6 separate regions of the Homo sapiens genome follow, and regions 1, 2, 3, 5 and 6 are each reported to be linked to region 4. Evidence: microRNA targets listed by miRTarBase, many of them from high-throughput screens and not tested one by one. Region 4 holds a microRNA gene; each other region holds the end of a gene's coding sequence.
Evidence for each region. Region 4 holds the annotated microRNA hsa-miR-548u (CAAAGACUGCAAUUACUUUUGCG, at 2,032-2,054, opposite strand). A microRNA usually pairs through its seed, bases 2 to 8, with sites in the 3' UTR of a target mRNA and lowers its output. Matches are read on the target gene's strand: a 7mer-m8 pairs with bases 2 to 8, a 7mer-A1 pairs with bases 2 to 7 and ends in A, and an 8mer does both.

Region 1: miRTarBase lists CLDN1 as a target of hsa-miR-548u. Seed matches in the 3' UTR shown: 7mer-A1 at 2,119-2,125.
Region 2: miRTarBase lists XXYLT1 as a target of hsa-miR-548u. The part of its 3' UTR that is shown has no 7-base or 8-base seed match.
Region 3: the mRNA of CNNM3 is a reported target of hsa-miR-548u. Seed matches in the 3' UTR shown: 7mer-m8 at 2,605-2,611.
Region 5: miRTarBase lists ARHGAP15 as a target of hsa-miR-548u. The part of its 3' UTR that is shown has no 7-base or 8-base seed match.
Region 6: miRTarBase lists FLCN as a target of hsa-miR-548u. Seed matches in the 3' UTR shown: 7mer-A1 at 2,605-2,611.

What each region holds. Positions count from the first base shown.
Region 1 is chr3:190,304,911-190,308,989 of GRCh38, forward strand. CLDN1 (claudin 1) reads right to left here. Exons shown (of 4, transcript NM_021101.5): 4 at 797-3,529. The coding sequence ends at 3,367. It also overlaps a transcript of CLDN16 not described here. Among named protein-coding and RNA genes, the nearest start is that of CLDN1, 15 kb to the right of the region's middle.
Region 2 is chr3:195,066,058-195,070,146 of GRCh38, reverse strand. XXYLT1 (xyloside xylosyltransferase 1) reads left to right here. Exons shown (of 4, transcript NM_152531.5): 4 at 36-1,863. The coding sequence ends at 432. Among named protein-coding and RNA genes, the nearest start is that of XXYLT1-AS1, 26 kb to the left of the region's middle. RefSeq lists an enhancer at 616-1,815.
Region 3 is chr2:96,832,116-96,836,195 of GRCh38, reverse strand. CNNM3 (cyclin and CBS domain divalent metal cation transport mediator 3) reads right to left here. Exons shown (of 8, transcript NM_017623.5): 8 at 814-3,644. The coding sequence ends at 3,580. LOC124907859 (a long non-coding RNA gene) reads left to right here and starts at 1,807. Exons shown (of 2, transcript XR_007087143.1): 1 at 1,807-2,885; 2 at 3,557-4,080. RefSeq lists enhancers at 2,419-3,038, 2,701-3,900.
Region 4 is chr6:57,388,145-57,392,233 of GRCh38, reverse strand. It overlaps MIR548U (microRNA 548u), which reads right to left and starts at 2,102; the gene lies at 2,022-2,102. All of the region lies in intron 7 of PRIM2 (DNA primase subunit 2), which reads right to left.
Region 5 is chr2:143,767,741-143,771,829 of GRCh38, reverse strand. ARHGAP15 (Rho GTPase activating protein 15) reads right to left here. Exons shown (of 14, transcript NM_018460.4): 14 at 3,478-3,841. The coding sequence ends at 3,658. The region is part of intron 2 of ARHGAP15-AS1 (ARHGAP15 antisense RNA 1); the gene reads left to right. Among named protein-coding and RNA genes, the nearest start is that of ARHGAP15-AS1, 6.3 kb to the left of the region's middle.
Region 6 is chr17:17,210,278-17,214,366 of GRCh38, forward strand. FLCN (folliculin) reads right to left here. Exons shown (of 14, transcript NM_144997.7): 14 at 1,935-3,579. The coding sequence ends at 3,378. Among named protein-coding and RNA genes, the nearest start is that of PLD6, 6.0 kb to the left of the region's middle.

The DNA of each region.
Region 1 (4,079 bases), not on the chromosome of region 4:
TGAGCTCACACAGAGGTGATATCTACTTGGTATGATTCACAATCCAAGTTTTCCTTTAGTTATTTTCAGGAGCACCAAGATACTTTATTGCCTTTCAAACTTCTGCTGGCCTTGGCCTTACCTTCAGATATTTAAATTCTGTAGAAACAGAGTGAGAATTCTGATGCATCTGCTTAATTTAAGGAGAATTCAAGTCAAATTGACTGGCAATGATCTTTGCACCTCACCCATCATGCTAATGTCTGAGACTCCACATTAGAGCTGCAAGCCTTTACTTATAAGCCTGGTCTCAATATGAACATTGTCCAGGAACAGGCCACACTTAAGGTTGTGTCAGTTATTGATACTTTAAGATAATGAGTGAATGAGTTCCATCACATCCTTATGGAGTAGTTTTGATCATCATCATTACAGAAACAATAATGGGTTTCCAGCAGCTGTCTTTCACTCTTCCACCTTTGTGAGGAACAAAGCCACTTAAGTTTGCACAGTGCTTTATAGTTCACAAAATATCTTCATATCTTATCATTTATTATTGTATGTCCCCTTTTTATAGATGAGAAAAAGTATTAAGTAACATCTCCTGGCATCCTCTTCTATTACCACCCTTGATGAGGAACTCAATTTGAGAGAAATAGGGCATTCTAGTGGGTGGAGCCACTCAAATTTGATAGATGGGCCAGAGGCATCATAGTTCTTTCCCAGGATCATGGTGAGTCAGATCCTGTCCCAAGCCACCTCCTCTACCAAGAATGGCAATCTTGCAATAAATGATTAGAAAACAAGCCAATAATCCTTTTTTTAAATTAAAAAACAATTTATTGAAAAAGAGTAATGCTTTATACAAATTCCTATTATAAAACCCCAAAATGTCTATTGGTCTGTTTCCAGGTGTGGTAGAAGAATATAAAAAGATCAAAATTGGATAAATTCTATTGTAACAATTTCGTTGGTCATTTTGGGCCATAAAATTTTTTTGTAATGTTTGGTAACTGATATCCACATGGAATTACACTCACACATCATGAAGATCTATGTATGTGGCAAAAGCCATTTAAATTTTAACTTCCAAAAGCATATATTCTCAGGTTTGGAAGGCACACTAAAATTTATTAGGTCCAATTCCTCATAAGACACAGTGGCTGACTTTCCTTGTGTAGTTTATTATGAAGTACCATTTCCAAACTAACTATCCTAGCAGCGTCAGCTGCCAGCTAACAGCAAGAGCTCTGAGGGCATCACTGAACAGATAGCACCTTATGAGTTATTATGATTCAAAAATCTCCCTTGCTGTTGGATTTACCAACACGTAGGCTTTTATTTCTTCCCATTACATCTGTTTAGCCACAGAAAGCATCGGGCCATACTCACTGCAGAAGATAAGACTTCCTCAGAATCTTATTTGTTTAGTGCACTCAATTTTACTTCACTGTCTCATCACTTGAGAGACTGGTTAAGGCAAGAAACCCATTTCTTAACATTTTTTTTGTTTTCAAACATTTGAAAAGCAACACCAAAACGTATGCAGTTAATTCCTCAATTCTTTCCCTTAGTATAGCACTTTTTAAATTACAAAACCACACTTACATGTATTCTATCTCACTGGATCCCCACAACATCACTGTGAGGTGGGAAGATCAGGAATTACAAACCACCGCTTACAGATGAAGCAATAAGCTTACAGCAGCCAAATGCCTTGCTCAAACACAGACGGTGATTGATAGCACCAAGACTCAAATCCAGGTCTCCAGACACCAATGCCAACACCCTTTCCATTACATCATCTTGCTCAAGTGAAATAGCATTCTGTACAGACTGGAAAAGTAAGAGCAGTTGTTAAAATGGAACAGAGCACAAACATGTCAGACACAGCTGAAAGAATGGAAATAGACTGGTAGAGAGAGGAAGGCACTGAGCCACATGAAGGTATGTGCGTAGGTTTTGTTCAGTGGAAATAGACTGGTAGAGAGAGGAAGGCACTGAACCACATGAAGGTATGTGTGTAGGTTTTGTTCAGTGGAAATAGACTGGTAGAGAGAGGAAGGCAGTGAATCACATGAAGGTACGTGTGTAGGTTTTGTTCAGTGACTTCTTCAGTGTCTCAGCCAGCTGAGCAAATAAAGACACTACATAGGCATAGTTCATGTTCAAAGAATGAGAGTAATATAAACTAATTAATATTCACACTACCTCTTCTAACTGGTTAAGTATCATTATCTCAATTTGGCAGATAGAAAAAAGAGGTAGAAAGATTAAGTGACTTGCTTACAGCTACAGAGAGAATATTTGTCACCAGATTATCACTCCAGAAAGTCTAGCACTTTGTTCAGACAAACAGACCACACCTTATTAGGAAGATATAAAACGCATGATAATTACACTTGGGAAAACAATACAATTAAGGAATGGGGAACAAAAAGGTAGTTTAGGGGGATATAAAACTATGAATAAGTAGCTTAAAAATTCAATCAATAAAGTTGTGTTACAACACCTGGGGGAACAGCATGCAGCTACTCAATTGGACAAATATTTTCAAAGCAAACAAGAGTGCTATGGGTCAGAGTACAGGGATTGTGTGGGAAGGTCAACAGGAATTTATCACTTTGGTCATGCAGAAAGATTTGCCTCCAAAGTTCTGATTTGTAATAAATTCTTCTTGGCTTTAGAAACTAAAATGTAGGCTATGAAATGTGTTAGATTCAGGAGATAGAGACCAATGAAACACAAAACAAATAAGGGCTTAATAACGATGCAAGTGCTATAAGATTATGGTAAAAAATAAAATAAGTATATGAAAAGGGCACGCATGAAGAATTGAAAGAATTCATCCTTGGTAAATTAGGCTAGGTCTTGTGGCAAAGGCACCCAAAGCTAATGAAGAAGAGTAAATGATATTTGACTGTTACATATGTATATATAGACGAAAAAGAAAATATACCAATAAACATCTTCATCAATATGGAATTAAATACATTTACCTATTTTAGAGATATTTTAAGTATGCTAGTATCAACATAATGAGAATAGTATTTTACTGTCTATTTTTAATAGAAAAACATGTATATATACATATCTATATATATTTAAGGAGCACCCCTTCCCCCAGTTGAGTATGATTACTCAATGGGAAGCAGTAATACAAATGGAAAAATCTTCCCTCCTATATTGAGGAAAGAAGATAAAATAAGATTAAGCCATGTTTAGCACTGAGTATTTTAACACATGGGTTTTTTGTTTGTTTGTTTGTTTTGTAATACCATACTTCAGATTACAATACCCAAAATTCTAAGGTCCTAATGTTAATGATAGTATCTCAATGTCCATTTTCGGTTTGTTTCAACATGATTTTCTCCTTTTGCCTCTGTGTCACACGTAGTCTTTCCCGCTGGAAGGTGCAGGTTTTGGATAGGGCCTTGGTGTTGGGTAAGAGGTTGTTTTTCGGGGACAGGAACAGCAAAGTAGGGCACCTCCCAGAAGGCAGAGAGAAGCAGCAGCCCAGCCAGTGAAGAGAGCCTGACCAAATTCGTACCTAAAAGGAAAAACCCATGTGCTTGTTAATCAGTGAATTATTGGCAACTTTTCTAATATAATAAAAGGAAAAAAAATCAATACTCATTGTATTTTTTTCATTGAAAATAACCCCTGAATATCCCTTGGGAAGTACTTTAAGATTTCTGAACATACACGCCAAAGAATGTTTATATTGCAATTGGTGACAATTTGCAATAGTAGATCAGGAAATAACACATGTAATACCAGGTTAATTACACAAATAATTCCAAGGACTTTTCCATATATAGGATACTTGTAAAGCATGTTTATATGTTTTAGAAGTAGGGTTTGGATCATGGTTCCTAGGCTGAAACTTAGCAAAGGAAGCTTTATCACTAAGTAGTAATCATATTCTATAAAGAAACTGATAGAGCATAATGGAGATAATCAGAGCTTTGAACAGATGATCCATTGGTCCCAGGCACCTATACAATCTGAAATCCAAATCTTATGGTTTTGTAAAGAAAAGTTCTAAGCAGCCCATGAACCATTCTGGATTAAGCTGATCCAGGCAGATGTATTAAAGC
Region 2 (4,089 bases), not on the chromosome of region 4:
GCACACCGGACTAACTCTGTCCTCTCTCTCCACAGGCACACATTCTGGCAGTTCCGCCATGAGAACCCCCAGACCCGGGTTGGGGGCCCGCCCCCCGAGGGGCTGCCGGGCTTCAACAGCGGGGTGATGTTGCTGAACCTGGAGGCCATGCGCCAGTCCCCGCTCTACAGCCGCCTGCTGGAGCCGGCGCAGGTGCAGCAGCTGGCCGACAAGTACCACTTCCGCGGCCACCTCGGGGACCAGGACTTCTTCACCATGATCGGCATGGAGCACCCCAAGCTCTTCCATGTGCTGGACTGTACCTGGAACCGGCAGCTGTGCACCTGGTGGAGGGACCATGGCTACAGTGACGTCTTCGAGGCCTATTTCAGGTGTGAGGGCCACGTCAAGATCTACCACGGGAACTGCAACACTCCCATCCCGGAGGACTAGGCGCTCCCCGTGCCTTGCCCCCGGGGCCTCCAGATCTGGGGGAAGGACAGGGTTCCTTGGGACAGACCCAAGGGCAGTGTCTGACCCGCTAGAGAGACACCGCAGGGAAGTCCTGTGATTAAGGTGCTGAGACCTCCTGCCGGGCAGGTCACTGTGCTGAGGCCACCCGCCAAGGACTGGCCTGTGCACTGCTGGTGCTTGGGACCTTATTCCTCCAGGGAGCAGGCGACACAAAGGACACGCATGTCCAGTGGGCTGGGAAGCAAGCACTTGAAGAGAAGGAAGGGGAGAAAGGGTCCCCCTTGCTGTCTGCCTCTGAGGAATGGAAATCCTTTAGACCCGGCCTTTTTTGGACCAATATAAATTTAATTTAAATTGACAGCCTTCCATTTTTCGAGAAAGTACAAACAGAACTGCTTTAGCACCCATCGAGCCCCAAACGGGTAAGGTAAGCCAAGGTTTTAATGACCAGCCCAGTATCTAAGCTTCCAAACGAATGCCAGCCCATCACATACTCACCCTGGGAGGCTGCTGCACGCGCATTCTCCTGATGCTCACGTCACTTGGTGTAGGTTTCAGGATCGCCTCTTTGAGGAAGGACTTCAGGACCAACTGGGGCCTGCATAAGAAAACTTATCTCATTATTAGAGTACTCACAGCTTGTATCTCCCAGCTACATCCTAGAACCCCATTGTCCTTTATTCCACCAAACCAGCTCCAGGTGACCAGACTCTACTCAGAAAGCAAATTCGTCATCAAAGAACAGAGACTGGCCACCACAAGGACATGCAGGAGAACTGTCGGGACCAGGAAGACTCATTCCAAAAAGCCCAGGCCGGGCACAGTCGTCAAGCCTGTAATCCCAACACTTTGGGAGACCGAGGTGGGGGTATCGATTGAGCCTCGGAGGTCGAGATCAGCCTGGGAAACACAGGGAGGCCCCCATCGCTACAAAATATTTTAAAAATTAGCCAGGTGTGGTGGCTTGTGCTTGTTGTCCCGGCTACTTGGGAGGCTGAAGTGGGAGGGTGGCTTGAGTCCAGGAGTTCACTGCACTGAGCTGTGATCACACCACTGCACTCCAGCCTGGACGACAGAGTGAGACGTCCATCTCAAAAAAAAAAAAAAAACCAAAAAGGAACCCAGCAATTCCCAAGTGTGACCATGTGGGCTTGGAAGACATGTCACTCATGGGCTAGTAAGCATTCTAGTTTCTTTGTTTAAAAAATCCCCTTATCATACCACGTTAGACCGTAGACCTTAGCAGAAATTAAAGCGTCATTTCTTTTGATGGGGCCTCCTGTACGTAGGCTGCAGACGTGAAAGCCCCAGGGGTCCATTTGTATCAATTTTCATCTTGTTTTGTTTTGATTTCATTTACGTTTTTCTTTTTCCCATGAGTGAGGATAGCCAATAAATCATCTTTGAGAACATGGTGATTCATGTTGTTTGTTCTCTGATCACAGTTTCAGCTGCATGAAGGCTCTGAATCAAGTGTGTACTCAATGCCATTGGAATCCCCACCTCCCCTGATGAAGATGAGTGCTTACAGGAGATCCTAAGGACCAAGGAGAGGGCACATCTGAGAGGGTGTCAGAGAGGGTAGTATTGGCATGTTTGGTTCAAAGCAAGGAATCATTTCATTCTAGGTATTGGCAGGTCCACCTGCACTGGGGAGCAAAAGCATCCCCATTTCTTCTCATCCCTCTTACCCTAGACTGCCCAGTTACATCCTGCCCTGAAGAGGTGGAGCAGATATCTTTCCCAGCCCTCTGCTGTGACAGAATTGGTCTGTTCTCTCACCTACTTGATTTCCTATTTATAGGTAACAATTCTTGAATGCCTGCTGTGCACCAGCCATTGTATTGGGGGATTTATTACGCTATTGATAATGTTTATGAAAACTTCATGAAGGTCATTATGTCTAAAGTCGACTGTAAGAAAATGTGAGAGATGTGGACAGAGTCATATACTATATGTTTATCACATTTTTTATAGTAGAAGAAAATTGGAAGCAACTTAAAATGTGAAAAAGAGGGGCCAGGCGCGGTGGCTCACACATGTAATCCCAGCACTTTCAGAGGCTGAGGCCGGCAGATCTCTTGAGCCCAGGAGTTCAAGACCAGCCTGGGCAACATGGCAAGGCCCAGTGTCTACAACTATACAAAAATTAGCTGGGCATGGTGGTGCACGCCCAGCTATTCAGGAGGCTGAGCTGGGAGGATCACTCAAACCCAGGAGGCAGAGGCTGCAGTGAGCTGAGATCACGACACTACACTCCAGCCTGGGGGACCGGGCAAGACTCTGTCTGTCTTTAAAAAAAAAAAAAAAAAAAAAAAAAAAAGAATGGAATAGGTAGATGAATAATATGCTTCATCCATATAACAGAATACTTGAGGCATTATTCGAAGAATATGTAATGCCTCAGGAAATACTTAGAATGTGCTATTAAATAAAGAATGCAAAATGTAAGATCATATGTTTAATACGATCCTATTTTTAAAATTACATATATGTGTATGTATATCAGTGTACACACGTGTGTATAGATACATACCTACACACACACGTATGTATAAAAAGAGCATCTATTCTGCTGTATTTCAACTTCTAAAAACATAGGTGTTTCAAACACCACATTAAAAAAACAATTATTTCAACGGGAAAAAAGTGAGTTAAAGGCTAAAGAATTTTAGACTCACAATAATAAAGGTATTTTCCCTGCAATCCTTTCTATAATTAAAATGTGTCTATAGCTATGTGTGTATTTTGTTGTTGCAAGAAAAAAACAATAAGCTGGTTGGTCAAAATGGGCAAAGGCCAAACAACATCCCTCATTTACTTTTAAGTAAACCTCTCAGGAGCTTCCCCTCTGTCACCAGTGGCCTCGACCTTCCAACCCCCCAGTGCACAGCAGACTGTCACTGCACAGGCACCCCAGCCCACCCACAGATCACACCCCAGCCCGCTGACAGATCACACCCCAGCCCGCTGACAGGTCCCACCGCAGCCCACCAACAGATCCCACCCCGGCCCGCGGACAGATCACACCCCAGCCCGACAGATCACACTGCAGCCCACCAACAGATCACACCCTGGCCCATAGACAGATCACACCCCAGCCTGCTGACAGATCACCACATAGGCACCCCAGCCCGCCGACGGATCACCACACAGGCAGCCAGCCCACCGACAGATCACTCCACAGCCTGCCGACAGATCACACCCCGGCCCACCGACAGATGACTTCACAGGCACCCCAGCCCGCCCACAGATCACCGCACAGGCACCCCAGCCCGCCCACAGATCACACCCCAGCCCCCCGACAGATCACCGCACAGGCACCCCAGCCTGCCCACAGATCACACCCCAGCCCGCCGACAGATCACACCCCAGCCTGCGGACAGATCACTGCACAGGCACCCCAGCCCGCCCACAGATCACACCCCGGCCCGCCGACAGATCACTGCACAGGCACCCCAGCCCGCCCACAGATCACACCCCAGCCCACTGACAGATCACACCCCAGCCCGTCAACAGATCACACCCAGCCCACCAACAGATCACTGCACAGGCACCCCAGCCCGCTGACAGATCACACCCCAGACCGCTGACAGGTCACACCACAGACCGCCAACAGATCACACCCCGGCCCAC
Region 3 (4,080 bases), not on the chromosome of region 4:
AGGGAGAACTGCTTGAGTCCAGAAGTCAAGTATACAGTGAGCCAAGATTGTGCCACTGCACTCCACCATGGGTGACAAAGTGAGACTCTGTCTCAGGAAAAAAAAAAGGGGGGGAGGGGGAGGGGTGAAAAAGATAAGCTACAGACCAATGGAAACCAAAAATCCCATAAAGGAATCTCAAAGAACTCTCAAAACTCAACAGAAGAAACAATCCAATCAGAAAATGGGTGAAAGACAGGAATATTCCACTGAAGCGAAACACAGGTGTCCACCACTGGGAAATGCAAATGAAAAACCACCGTGAGGCATCACGACACACCTGTCAGAACGGCTGAAGTAAAAACATGTGGACACCACTAAGTGCTGTGGAGGATTCAGGGAAACTGATCATCCTAGGTTGCCGGTGAGGACATGAGTTTGACAGTTTGTGGCCAGGTGCGGTGGCTCACGCCTGTAATCCCAGAACTTTGGGAGGCTGAGGCGGGCAGATCACGAAGTCAGGAGATCGAGACCATCCTGGCTAACATGGTGAAACCCCGTCTCTACTAAAAATACAAAAAACTAGCCGGGCGTGGTGGCGGGCGCCTGTAGTCCCAGCTATGGGGAGGCTGAGGCAGGAGAATGGCATGAACCCGGGAGGCAGAGCTTGCAGTGAGCCGAGACTGCGCCACTGCACTCCAGCCTGGGCAAAAGAGTGAGACTCCGTCTCAAAAAAAAAAAAAAAAAGTTTGATTGTTTAAAAAACGAAACATGCAACAACCCTATGACCAAGCATTTACACTCCTCGAAAACTAATCCTGACACAGAAACCTGTACATGAATAGTCGTAGCAGCTTTATTTGGAATAGCCCCAAACTGGAAACATCCCAGGTGTCCTTCAGGGGGCCAATGCATACACCACGGAATACCACTCAGCAATAAAAAGGAGCAAACTGTTGACACATGCAATGCCTGGATGATCTCCCGAGAATGACGCCGAGTGAAAAAAGACAATCCCGAATGCTTACACACTATGCTCCCATTTATACAACATTCTTGAAATGACAAAATAAGAAGAGATGAACGATTAGTGGTTACCAGGAGTTAGGGAAGGTGGGGAGGGAGATCCTTGTGGGGATGGGACTTCTTTATCCTGATTGCAGTGGTAGTTACACAGATGTACATGTGACAAATGATTTGGACTGTCCACCCACATCGCACCAGTGTCAGAGTCTTTGTTGGAATACTGCATTACAACCATATAAGATGTAACCATGGAGGGAAACTAGATGAAGGGTGCGTGGGGCCCTTACCTTTACAACTTCCTATCATCTGAAATTATTTCAAAATATAAAGTTAGGAAAAAAGAAAGCAACAGCTCTAAGTGCAGTATGGCATCCTGGATTGGCTGCTGCAGCAGAAAAGGGACATTGGGAAAAATGGTAAAATCCAAATAAACTCTAGCTATTAGTATGATTGCACCTTTAGTTTTGATAAATGTACCAAGGTTATATGTAAGCTGTTAACATTAGGGGAACCTGGGTGAAAGGTGTATGAAACTTCTGTGAATCTGGGCACGGTGGCTCACGCCTATAATCTCAACACTTTGGGAGGCCGAGGCAGGAGGATCGCTTGAGCCTAGGAGTTCGAGACTACCCCAGGCAACATAATGAGACCCTATCTCTACAAAAAAAAATTAAAAGTATTAGCTGGGTGTGGTGGTGCCTACCTGTAGTCCCTACTACTCAGGAGGCTGAGGTGGCAGGATGGCCTGAACCAGGGAGGTCGAGGCTGCAGCAAGCCGTGATCACACCACTGCACTCCAGTCTGGGCGACAGAGCAAGATCTTGTCTCAATAATAATAATAATAATAATAATAATAATAAATAAATAAAAAATTGAAAACTCTGATGCCGACTCTGATTAAATCACAAGCTCTGGTGGCAGGTCCACGTATTTTTAATTTGCCAGGTGATTCTGGTGTGCAGCCAAGGTTAAGAATCCCTGATCTTAGCTCACACCTATAATCCCAGCACTTTGGGAGGCCAAGGCAGGCAGATCACCTGAGGTCAGGAGTTCAAGATCAGCCTGGCCAACATGGTGAAACCCCATCTCTACTAAAAATACAAAAATTAGCCGGGTGTGGTGGTGGGCACCTGTAATCCCAGCTACTCAGGGGGCTGAGACAGGAGAATGGCTTGAACCTGGGAGGTGGAGGTTGCAGTGAGCCAAGATCTCACCACTGCACTCCAGCCTGGGTGACAGAGTGAGACTCCATCTCAAATAAACAAACAAAAAACCACTGTTCTGGAGAGAGGATTTTAAAGCATCTGTTTCCAACCCGGGCTTGCTCTCAGAGTTTATTCCTTGAGGACAATTTCTAAGCAAGGATATCACTGTTGTTTTGACCTTCAGTCCCATTTATAAGGGTCCAAATTCCTTTGAGAAAAGTTCCAGAAATCCTCCTCCCTCCCTACCCAATCTATGATCCTATGTCCTTGTGATGCCCGTTTCCACACAGCTGAAGAACTACGGAAGGAAAATGTAGTAAACTAGAAGAAAAAGACAAATGCCTTCCTGTTCCCACTTCTCTAAAACCCCATAGCTAGGAACAGAAAAAAAGGAAAAGACTTGAAATGTTCTAGAGATATAACAAAAACTTTTTTTTTTTTAAAGAGGATCCACCTGGTTCATGAACCCTCCCTCACTGCTCTCTGCACATCACGGCCACACAGCACCTGCAGGGAGGCTGTGGGGAGGTGTGGAGCAGGTGCAACAGGCAGCTACTCTCCTGGGGGCCACACGGCGGAGAGAGGATTCGATGCAGCATGACGATCCCTTCCTCCCAGGCATGACCTCTTCTCAGAACACGGGAACTGACAACACTGCGAGTGGCAACTCAGCAGGTGGGCAGAGAAGCAGAAAGGGGCCCTCAGCACCACTAGGCCAGCTCTCAGAATCAGAAGAGCAGCCTCCAGGGAGGGAGCAGGGCTACAGGGACAGCCTACGGGCAGTGGAGCTTCTGGTTTGGCACATGGGAAAGGCTGGGGCGCATGCGCTGAAACATGACACCATCAGGGAAGCCAGAAAGGACAACATGGACAAGGCCATCGATCTGAACCCCCAGCCAAAATGGGTGCTCTCGGCTTGCTCAAAAAGTGCTGCCAGCAGCGATAGGTTGGCAAATTAAAAGCAAACAAATAGAGGTCACGGCCACACAAAGGCAGTAACTGCACTCACAAGGTGGCTCAGCCCAAAGAGGTCTGAATCTGAATATGCCGCACTGTCCCTGCCCCGGGGGAGAAGGGGAAGGCTGGGCCCTGGGAACTAGAGATGATGGCATTCCTTTCATTCCTTCCTGAGGCGGGCCTGGAGGGCTGTGCCCTGGTGACTCCTGTCTCCTAAAGGAGGGCAGGGCCGGCTGAAGGATCCAGGCATTGATGTCTAGTTCTGAGGACACCCAGGACCCGCAACTACAAGGGCCATCTAAAACGTGGCCTGGAGGGGATGGGGGCAGGCGGGCACAAAACTTCTGCTCAGCTCACTCCAGCTCCCCACGTGCTCATCTGTTCCCCAGATCTGGGGCTGCCTAGTGAGCCGTTAAACGCCTGGGTTCCGCCCAGGGCTGCCTTCCACCGGGACGCCGGGCCTGCTGTGGCTGGACCCTACAGGAGACAAGGGAAGGAGAATTAACATCAAAGCTGGTAAAGTATCCTGTCAAAACCAAGTGCCAAATCCTCTGTGGGACAGGAAGGGGCAGCTAAGACAGGTGCTTCGGGATGCCTTGGGAAGTATCAGAGCAGAAACAGGAGCGACTGGTTAGCAGATGGTCAGCCAACAGATGCCTTCCCTGGGAGACGGGGAAGCTGGGGCTGTGGATTTCTGGCCCCGAGGGTCCCAGGTCATTATGCTGAACAAGAGGCACCTTCCCGGGACGATACAGCACCCTGTGCTGGAAGGAAGCACCATTTTCCACAGTGGAGGAGTCTCATGACCCCTCCTGTCTTCCAGAAGGATGGAAGGGAGCGCCCACCCCACACCCCTGGAGAAAAATGCCCCCCAGCCTGGGGAGCCATGGGCTCTGCTCCTCCCTCAGCTGAA
Region 4 (4,089 bases):
TTCCAGGATACAAAATCAATGAACGAAATCGCTAGCATTCCTATACACCAACAAAAGCCAAGCTGAGAGCCAAATCAACAAGGCAATCCCATTCACAATTGCCACAAAAAGAATAAAATACCTAGGAATACAGCTAACCAGGGAGGTGAAAGATCGCAACAATAAGAATTACAAAATACTGCTCAAAGAAATCAGAGATACACAAATAAATGGAAAAACATCCCATGCTCATGGACAGGAAAAGTCAATATCATTAAAATGGTCATACTGCCCAAAGCAATTTATATAATTCAGTCCTATTCCTATCAAACTATCAATGACATTCTTCACAGAACTAAAAAATAAATAAATAAAAACTATTTTAAAGTTCATATGAAACTAAAAAAGAGTCCGAATAGCCAAGGCAATCCTAAGCAGAAAGAACAACGCTTGAGGCATCACACTACCAATTTCAAACTACAGCACAGGATACAGTAACCAAAACAGCATGGTACAGGTACAAAAACAAGCACATAGACCAATGGAACAGAACAGAGAGCCCAGCAATAAGCCCACACACCTACAACCATATGATCTTCAACAAAGCTGACAAAAACAAGCAATGGGGAAAAGAACCCCTATTCAATAAATGGTGCTGGATAACTGGCTAGCCATATGCAGAAGATTGAAGCTGGACTTTTCCTTATACCATATATAAAAATCAACTCAAAATGGATTAAAGACTTAAATGTAAAATCCAAAGCAATGAAAACCCTGGAAGACAACTTAGGCAATACCATCTGGACATAGGAATGGGCAAAAATTTCATGACAAAGACACCAAAAGCAAAAATTGGCAAATGGGATCTAACTAAACTTAACAGCTTCTGCACAGCAAAAGAAATTATCAACAGAGTACACAGACAACCTACAGAATGGAAGAAAATACTTGCAAACTATGCATCTGACAAAGGTCTAATATTCAACATCTATAAGGAATTTAAATATACAAGAGATAAACAACCCCATTAAAAAGTGGGCAAAGGACATGAACAGACACTTCTCTAAAGAGGACATACATGTGGCCAAGAAGCATATGAACAAAAGTTCAGTATCAATTGATCATTAGAGAAATGCAAATCAAAACCACAATGAGATACCATCTCATACCAGTCAGAATGGCTATTACTAAGAAGTCAAAAAATAACAGATGCTGATGAAGTTGCGAAGAGGAGGGAACACTTATACACTGTTGGAGGGAGTGTAAATTAGTTCAACCAATGTGGAAAGCAGTATACTGATTCCTCAAAGAGCTAAAAGCAGAACTATCATTCAACCTTGCAATCCCGTTACTGGGTATATACCCAGAGGAATATAAATCATTCTACCATCAAGACATATGTACACCAATGTTCATTGCAGCACCATTTACAATAGCAAAGACATGGAATCAACCTAAATGTCCTTCAGTGACAGACTAGATAAAGAAAGTGTGGTACACATACATTATGGAATACTATGTAGCCATAAAAAAGAATGAGATCATGTCTTTTGTGGGAACATGGATGGAGCCTGAGGCTACTAACTAGCAAACTAACCCAAGAATAGAAAACCTAATACCACATGTTCTCACTTAGTGAGAGCTAAATGATGAGAACTCTTGCACACACAGAAAAGAACAACAGACACTGGGGTCTACCTGAGGGTGGAGGTTGGGAGGAAGGAGAGGAGCAGAAAAGGTAACTATTGGGTACTGAGTTTAATACCTGGGTGATGAAATAATCTGTACAACAAGCCCCCATGACATGAGTTTACCTATGTAACAAACCTTCGCATGTACCCCCAAACCTAAAAGTTAAAAAAAAAGAAATATGTGTTGAATAGACAACAGATTGTAAACTGCATCTTAGAAAAAGGTTAACAAACCAGTATCTCACAAATAGAACAACAATCAAGTTCAGCTGAGCATCCTCAGTCAACAAACCTGTCAAACTAGAAAGAGCATATGCTTATTTTCCCCCGAAAAATGATTTTTTTTCTGTTATTAGGTTGGCGCAAAAGTAATTGCAGTCTTTGCCATTAAAAGTAAAGAAAAAAACCACATTACTTTTGCACCATCCTAATAGTCTCATGGCTTTCAACTGCAACGTTTTGTTTCCCACAGATCAGCAGCAAGGGAGACCAAATGAACTGGTGCCTGACAGTAATGGTGGAAGTGAAAGCATGTTATGCTTGCATATCGTGATATGCTACTTGCATATTGATGGATTTGCTGCAGCACTGACAAGTTCACAGTGACCCACTTTAAAATGGCATTAAATGATCAGTATATTTAAAAAGACATGTTAACCAGAACCCAAGAAATCAGCTAGTTGTACACAAATAGTAAGAAAACTCCTATATGATTCCCAACTAAGTAACCATTCAAGAAAATTAATTATATTTAATCACAGTTTAAGGAAGAAAATTGAACACTACTTTTAAAAAGAGGATACAAGATTTAAGAGGATTCCAAACTCTTTAGAAATAAAAATTACCTGATCAAGTGCCTACAAAGCATATTTTTCCAAACGAACAAATAATTAGTGAGCCACAGACCCAACTGGTACTTTCTAAATGTGAAAAAGGAAATCCTTTTCAAAAAAGAAAATCCTTGCTTTTCTCTGTGACTCCAAGTAAGAGCCACTTACCTGCCTTTCAATTATCTTCCTGGGAACTTCTCAGTCCTTTTTTCTGTATCTAAATAAGATGTGTATAAATACATTTTTTGGAAGTCTGGTTTCTTTAACGTTTTACCAGTACCTTCTAAAGATGAGTCTCACAAATAGAAAGTGAAATTAAGGCCAGGCATGGTGACTCATGCCTGTAATTCCAGAACTTTAGGAGGCTCAGGTAGAAGGATCACTTGAACACAGGAGTTCTAGACCAACCCAGGCAACATAGGGATATCCCCAACTCTACATAAACTTTTATTAATAAAAACTTAGCCAGGCACTGTTGGCACAGGCCTGTGGCTCCAGCTACTTAGGAGGCTAAGGCAGGCGGACTGCTTGAGCCTGGGAGGTCAAGGCCATGGTGAGTTGTAATTGCACCACTGCACTCCAGCCTGGGTGACAGAGTAGAGACCCTGTCTAAAAATAAAAAATAAAAATAAAAATAAATAGTCACACTGTGTGAGGAGAAAGAGATTTTTGCCTTAAAGAAATCCAGCTCCAATTTAAGGATCTGCCCCATTTTCTAACAACAAATGAAGTATGTTCTCTGCTTAATGAAATCAAGTGGAAGTGTATGGAAACCAAGCTCAGCTGTGGGCCCCCTCTCTTCTCCACTGACATCCCACACTCTTCCTGGAGTCTCATGGCTGCACATTCTCCTCCCCAAAAATTTAGACACTCAAATCCAACTTCAAACTTGCCATCTCCATTTGTGTAACCAATAAGCACCTTCTACTTAACGTGGTCAGAATAGAACTCTTTATTTTATTTTACATATTTTTCTCGGAGTCTTCTACATCTTGGCAAAGGCATCACCCCCTAATAAATTATTCAAGCCAAAATTCTAGGCAGTGTAATATAATGGTCAAGAACATAGACCTTGATGCCAGACTGTATGGATTCAAATCCTGCTTCTGCTCCTCACTACCTGTATAAAGATACTACAAGCCTCAGAGAGTGATAATGGTACCTGCCTTATAGGGTTACCATAAAGACTAAATGCATTAATTCATATAAAGCATTTAGAATAGCACTTGGCAAATATTAAATTTTCACTATGCTTAAGCTCTCATCATCATCATCATTATGCTGATTCTTCTCTTTCTCTCACAACCAATCCACCATGTCAATATTACTTTAAAAACTAACTGAAATCCACTGACTTCTGTCAGTCATATCACCACAACCAATCCATTTCAAGCCACTATCTAGATTAATGTGAAAACTTCCAGACTAGTCCTCCCGCTTCCATTCCTTTTTTATCCTCCAAAATGGCTTTCAAGCAGCAGCCACAGTCATCTATTTAAAACATAAATCAGATCATATCACTCACTTATTCAAAATCATCCAATGTCTTTCAACTACATTAGGCTAAAAAAAAATCAAACTCTTTACCC
Region 5 (4,089 bases), not on the chromosome of region 4:
CCCTTAGCAACAGTCCTTTTTGGATGAAAATCTTTGCAGGGCCTTTTAATTAGGAATTGACAGGGTGATTAACTTATAATTCACAAAAATAAATGTGGAAAAGAGAAGTACAGGTCAATTTCTAGCTGTGTTAAACTGTAAGGACAGCACTATTGGCAAGTGATTGCTTCCTTTTAACAGCTTTTAAAATTTTTCTTAATTGGATCGTTTGTTTTCTAATTGGATAGGGAGAACCATCATATGGCTTTCAATTACTAGTTGTGGCATGGTGATCCTGTCATATGGCACATGCTAAGAAAGTCAGACTGTCAACATATAAGATGAAATATATACCATCTCCAAGCAGCTTTCTGTGTCAATAAGAAAGAGGGGAAACCTCTGATATCCTGGGTAGGTAAAGGCGTGCTGAAATGGGACATAATAACTAGCTTGATTTTCTAGGGACTTGTGTTTCCATTCTACAGACTAAGTTACAATTTCTTAAAATGTTTCATCATCATAACTAGAACTGACCCTAAGAATATAAGATTATAATTTTATTTCACACACAAACACATACATGAGAAAATGCTGGTCTCCTCAAATTAATTTTTTTCCTGCCCATTGGTGAATTTAGAGATTCTCTAAGAAACAAAGTTTCTCTATAGCTTTCTGGCTTTACAGCCTCTATGGGATCCCTTTTGCCTACAGGATAAAATCTGAATATGTTATCATGGCTGATATCTGATCCCAACATCTTTCTCTAGCTTTATATTCCAAAATTGCTAGGCATGCACTTCACCCTTTATTCACTGAACTTCTCACTTTTCTTTGGAGAATGTCAGGTCTTTCATGACTCTGTTCGTGCCATTCCTGTTTCCTGGTGTGTTTTCTGCATTTTTCTTTGGTAAATCTTGTTCATTGGTCAAGATTAGATAGAAAAGGTTACCTTCCCAATGAAGCCACATCTAACTCTGTAACAGAGTCAGAGGACAGTTACTGCCTGTAACTGAGTCTTTTGGTATTTGTCAGCCACTGAGCATTGTTAATATGTCTGGAATAGCTTCTGTTCTGTTTGCCCATTCATTCAACAATACATTTTGAGCATCTTTAAGTATAGGTGCCGAATCCTGGGTCTACACGCTTACCAAGATGGCTAAGGCACCTGATCTTGTATTGAACTGTAATTAATTGTTAGGGATAGTCTCCCTCACTGGGCTGAAACTACAGAGGGTAGAAATATTTGTCTTATTTAATATTTGTGTCACCAGTGCCTAGAATTTTGCCTGGTTCAAACTAGGAGATAAGGAAATGCTCACTGGTGTTTCATGACTTCTTGCTGGAGAATATTGACCAGTTATATGAAATCTAACCTTTTAGTCAACCTAGTATACTTATAATCTCAGCTTCTAAACATGGAAGACTTGATATGGCCGTCATCACTGTATTTGAGATGTTACGGAATCTAATAATAACTTTTTGGTGTAACCCTTTTTATGCCTTTAGTGTGTTAGGTCAGATCCTGTGATGGGCACTTTGGCTCAGCACGTTGGAATGGCCTTTTCCCAGAGAGGAAACACATTCTCTGATTAAATGCCCTTAGCAGGCAGGGACAGGACACAGCTGGGGTTTGAATCAGGCTAAATCCCATCAGATTGGAAATCAAGAAGCTGGTGCTTTTGAAGATTATAAATCTGGAAAGCAACAGAGACAAGGGGCTGTGAGTCCCTGCCCAAAGCAGGTAGTGCCACTTCTCTTTGGCTTTCAGTGCTGGTTCTCTCTGGCTGATGCTTCCAGAATAACTTTAAAGATGGATACGTGTGAAGGGATAAGATTTTAATGCTAGAACCACTAAATCTACTCTCCCCCAACGCTTCAAAAAGGGAAGTAATCAAAGTCTTGGGAAAGACCTAATTGAGAATACGGAATGGCATGGAAATGAGAACGACTTGAAATAGAATGCCAGAAACTCTTGTTTCATGTCTCCATGTTTTTCTGAAAGGCATAATTACAATTTTACTTATAAGAATCACTTAAAGCTAGCAAGTCTGCCAGCCCACTGTTACTGGTGACTTCAGATCATGGAGTTCTGCTTCATGCGACTTTTTTTCAGCTTTTTGTATGTGTATACATCCCACTGGATGAAACTGCACTTCAGCACTTATTGTGGTGGCTTCTCTGTTCTTGGCTACAAGCCCACTTACTGGCGCCATTGCTAAAATGAAGACATTCAAAAGGGACAAGGGAGTCCTCTGCTTCCTCAGGCAGCTCCATGGATGTTGGAGCTGCCTGCACATCTGGCTATCTCTTGAGCAGACTCTCCCCGTCTCCTGAATACCCCATCTAAACAGACAGCCTATGCCGTGGAGCTCATTATTGCCCTAAGTGTTTGCTCTGGATCTGTGCTTCACCCGTTTTATTTACATGTTTTATTTTTCATTTTATGAACAAATCGATAACTATACTTACTCTTTATCACACTGGATTAGTTTTATTTATTCTGTTTGAATTTGATTAAAAAGCTGTCAAACGTAAGTCTACATTTTTATCAGCAGAATACTTTCATAAAACCAGTATGAGATGTGTTCAACTAGAACATACTTTTCAAAATAAAACAATGTTTGATATATTCTAGACAGTTACCCTTTTGTTTATCCATGACAACTGAAACTATCAAATGGATAAAGCAATCTAAGTCTAGTCAAGTAATCCTTAGGGCATATGAAAAAAAAGGCTTTAAAAAAGTTCTTTCTAGATGGATTTAATGTAATTCACCAATAAAGCATCCTCAGAAGTATAATAAAAATTCTACATAAAATGACATAGCCAGGGAAAAGGAAGATATACAGTTTGATGAAGATTCAAAATGGATGTTAGCATTAAAAATGAGCAGTCATGCAATTCCTGTGTAATATAAAGATCAAAATTGCAGGGCACTAATTTTGCTTCTAATTTATAAGATAGTGTGTTTATGGGACTACATTTGTATTTATAAAAAATTCAATGGCAAATGCTTTGAACTGTCATTTTTCTTGAGAAAAATTGCCATTCAACATGTTATATTTATAAATTTCACTGTATAGCATTGAAAATAGCTGGACTATATTTATATATACAAAAATGTTCTGGAAAGATGAAATATATATGTTTTGGTTGTGAACCTGATCTCCTTCGTTCAATTTACAAATTAATAGCTTCTGCCTTCCTACCTCTTTGTGTTCTATCCGTGTCCAAGTAACAGTATGGAGTCATGTTTAAGGCAGCCTGGATCTTGGGAAAGCACATGTGTGCACATGCACCCCTACTCCCAACCACACTCACTCACATCTCCACATACACAACCACACACCCAATTCCCTGGAGCAGCATTAAGGCCATTTTTTGAATATGTGCTAGTCTTTGCATATTATTTAATAGCATGAGGCATGCATGATGTGCTCCTAGAAGTGCTAGAAGGCATAGCACCAAAGGGGTTAATGTAGAACACATAGAGGCAAATATTGTCAATTATTTTATTCAAATGTTTGGAACTTAAACACAAAATCATCATTAAGTTTTCACAAAATGAGGCATCTGTCGCTTGAAAGGCAAAAAATATTTCAGAAATATGTTTACAGAAATGTAAAAATATTAGGCATCAAGACAGATGTGAACGTATTCAGTAGCTTGTCTTGTCTGTCAGTCTTCCTCTGAGCCGAAGATCTTACTGTACTCACTCAGCATGAGCTCAGCTATCTGGTTCTGGTAGACCATGTGGATCGCCATGTTTCCTGTTTCATTTTCAGCTCGCAGAAGGGTAGGTCCAAATACAATCCCCAAGCTTTGCGTGGACATGAGGTTCTTGGAGGCTTTGGCCACTATCCTGTGGAGAGAGAGAAAAAAAAATAATTTCACTGGAGTTTGAAGTGAAGTTATGGCTACTTTGGAGTGATTAAAAAAGGTTTCTCATTCAGGAAAAGTAACTGCATTATAACATTATTTAATCTTCTACCCTACATACTTTACTGTATGGAAGTAGAACCTATGAGTTTTGGGGAAAGGATACATTGCCTTGTCCAACTTTTTACCCCCATAATAGCTGAGCATTGTGGGTACTCAACAAATATTTGT
Region 6 (4,089 bases), not on the chromosome of region 4:
TGAGCCACAGTGCCTGGCTATAATAACCATTTTAATATGTGTGTGTATGTCATTAACATCATGTCGTATACCTTAAATATATACAATTTATTTTTTAAAAGCTTATACAAACTATATTATCAGATAAGGGGTTAATTTCCACAATATATAAGAGCTCAAGTGATTCTCCTGCCTCAGCCTCCTGAGTAGCTGGGACTACAGGCGTACACCACCAGCCTGGCTAATTTTTTTTTTTGTATTTTTAGTAGAGACGGGGTTTCACCATGTTGGCCAGGCTGGTATCAAACTCCTGGGCTCAGGTGATCCTCCTGCCTCGGCCTCCCAAAGTGCTGGGATTACAGGCGTGAGCCACCATGCCCGGCCCTGAGTGTAAGTATCTTGAATGTAAAATCAGGAAACCCTTGACTGCCTTCAAACACATGGGGAAGGTTCAAGATCTGGAACTTGTTTTCTGTCTCTTCCATTTTGTGAAAAGCTACAAAATCAGGAACCCCTATTCCCTCACAAGGACAGCAGAGTCTGGCCTGGTCTTGGGCTGGCATAGGTTCAGCTCAGCCTCCTGCTCTTCTGCACTCATGACCAATAGGAAAAATCTTCAAGAACTGCATGCCTGTGGGGAGAAAAAGCCCACAGCTGCCTAGAAACACCAGTTGGCAGCTGGGTGCGGTGGCTCACCCCTCTAATTCCAGCACTTTAGGAGGCCGAGGCGGGCGGATCACGAGGTCAGGAGTTCGAGACCAGTCTGGCCAACATGATGAAACCCCATCTCTACTAAAAATACAAAAATTAGCCGGGTGTGGTGGCATGTACCTGTAATCCCAGTTACTCGGGAGGCTGAGGCTGAATTGCTTGAACCAGGGAGTCGGAGCTTGCAGTGAGCCGAGATCACACCACTGCACTACAGCCTGGCAACGGAGCAAGACTCTGTCTCAAAAAACAAAAACAAAAACAAAACCACCAGTCGGCATAGGGCCTTGCCTGCCCCCTCGCCAGCAAGCTCTGTTAGACATGGGAAATCCAGGTCACACATGCCCCTGAAGTGAATGCAGAGCTAACTTACACTGGGCTCCTACTTGCCAAGTGGATTCAGCCACTAGACTGGCAGACAACTGGCAAAAACTGAGCATAGAACCACGTTCCCAGGAATGCCATGCACGAGAGAAAGACAGGAATCTGTACCCGAAGCCGGGGAGGACAGTGGGTGGTCATCTCTCCCTTGACCCACATTGGCCAGGGGGTCCCCTCCCACTCGAGGTAGATGACTAAACCGTGAACCTGCTGTTTTAGGGATTGCCACGGTCACCCAGGGTGATTCCAGCCATCTTCCTCTCAGATGGACATGTCTTTTAAATATCATCATTATTAAGGGATGAGCCATTTCTAATGCTGAACAAAATGAAAAGCACATGGGCATAGGTACTCAACAGATGTCCTTGGGATAAATGAGTGTTTGCTTCTCTCCAACACCAACTCCAACGACTAACTTGGAGAAGATTGTCTACGATCATTATAGCAGCTTAACTGTGCGAATTGGCCACTCACTGGTATTTTGTTTTGTTTTTTGAGATGGAGTCTCACTCTGTTGCCCAGGCTGGAGTGCAGTGGTGTGATCTTGGCTCACTGCAACCTCTGCCTCCCGGGTTCAAGTGATTCTCCTGCCTCAGCTTCCTGAGTAGCTGGGACTACAGGCATCTGTCACCATGCCTGGCTAATTTTTTATATTTTTAGTACAGACAGGGTTTCACCGTATTAGCCAGGATGGTGTCGATCTCCTGACCTCGTGATCCGCCTGCCTCAGCCTCCCAAAGTGCTGAGATTACAGGCATGAGCCACTGCGCCCGGCTGACTCACTGGTATTTTTTAACCATAGTATTTCCTGTGCCTGAGCGCAAATAAATAGTAGGCATCAAACCAATAAAACCATGTAGTAACAATTTACAAAAATACATCTTTATTGTGTTCCAATGTTGTTGCATTATACAGATACCTAGTTATATAAACTTGGTCTTCATGTTAAATATAAACACAAAAAAACTAGAAACAAATCAGCAAAACCATCAGAAAATCCCTCTGAGCCATGAATCCTTATTAAAAATGTATAGTGGGGGGTACCTGTAGCTGTATGTTGAAGCAGGAGGACTGCTTGAACTCAGGAGTTCAAGACCAGCCTGGACGACATAGCAAGATGCCATCTCTTTAAAAAAAAAAAAAAAAAAAAAAAAAAGGGCCAGGCACAGTGGCTCACGCTTGTAATCCCAGCACTTTGGGAGGCTGAGGTGGGTGGATCACCTGAGGTCAGGAGTTTGAGACCAGCCCGGCCAACACGGTGAAACCCCGTCTCTACTAAAAAATACAAAAATTAGCTGGGCATAGTGGCGGGCACCTGTAGTTCCAGCTACTCTGGAGGCTGAGGCAGGAGAATTGCTTGAACCCAGGAGGCAGAGGTTGCAGTGAGCCAAGATCGTGCCATTGCACTCCAGCCTGGGCAACAAGAGTGAAACTCCCTCTCAAAAAAAAAAGTACAGTGGGATGATGAAATTGTCTTCAATCACCACACTCCGAAAATAGTTAACTGTAACCAAACGTAAATGTTGAAAGCAGCAATAAAGACAAAAGCGATACAGAATAAAAGCATGGCGGGGCTCACCATATCCAGGGGATTGGGCAAGTCAGATGCTTGCCGACCCCTCAGCAACCTGTCTTGTGCAAAAATGATCAGGGACTCCATCATTAAGCCCCAGGTTACCTTCACCAGCACCTGCAGGGGAACACCCCAGAAGACGAGCCCCATGGCTTCAGAACACACATTTCAGAGGACCAAAAGATGAGGAAGAGATCCACTTCACTCCCCAAAGTCTCTTGCGGAGCCCTAACTCAATCACTCAGTGACCAAGAGCTGGCAATGTACTGAATATTCACAACTGCAGCAAAAGGTACCCTCAAACATAAGGCCCAGAAACTCTTGCTGAATTTCAAAGTAGAAACGCTTGAATGTTAACCTCGGGAGCAGACATGTTATTGCGACTGCATACTGAGTCGGACCTGTTTCTCCTGCGGGTTTTGAGTCTAAGTCCACAAGGGGCCTGGGAGGCAAGCTGTCCTCCTAGTCGTCTCTCCAAGGAGTTTGAACACAGAGAGAGCCCATCATCCCTCCGCCTTTCATTGCCATCTTCAGCGATTCCAACGGCTGGAGGGAGAGTCTGGGAAGCACACAGGCCCCAAACCTGACAGGGCCGAGCCCAGCCCTGATGGTTTCCCTTCCTTGCTGGGACACAGCTCCTTCCAGCAGTTGAGAAACTCAAGGGACAGTCCCTCTCACGGGGCTGGAGGATCCTGTGGACAGCCATCCCTGTCTTTAGGCAGGTGTGTGTGACGGGTCAGTTCCGAGACTCCGAGGCTGTGGGGCTGCGGACCGTGGACATGAGGTGTGACTTGTAGGTCTTGCTCAGGCCAGTCATCCAGAACTTCAGCAGCTTGACATTGTCCTCCTCGGACGCACCCAGGATGCTCAGCAGCTTCTGTGTGTCCTCTTTGGGTCGACTGTCCACCTTGGTGAACTTAAAAAGCACCTTCACTTTGCTGAAGAAAACCAAAACAAAACACTCAGACACCACAGCACAATCCCTCGAGCCCTGGTCACGGGGCCAACCAGGGGTGACACGGCTTTGGCACCAGCAGGAGCTGTGCAGGCAGAGCTGGAATCCACACCCTTGGGGCAGCAGGCTTGGCCCCTGAACTGCTGAAAGGAGCTGTGTCCCAGCAAGGAAGGGAAGCTGTCGGGGCTGGGCTCGGCCCTCTGTCGGGTATGGGTATGGGGCCTGTGCGCTTCCCACACCCTCCCTCAAGCTGTTGTCAAGACGCCAAGAAGAAAGAAAAACCTTCCTTAAACTCGTGGAAGACACTGGTTGCTCCTAAGCTTCACTGCATGATTTTAAATCAGGACAATGTTTGATTAATAAATTTGACCCAAAAAATTACCAAGAATCGAGGCAGGAGGAAATAAAGTAAATTTGCTTACAAAAAAAAAAACCCGGGGGGCCAGGTGCAGTGGCTCACGCCTGTAATCCCAGCACTTTGGGAGGCCAAGGT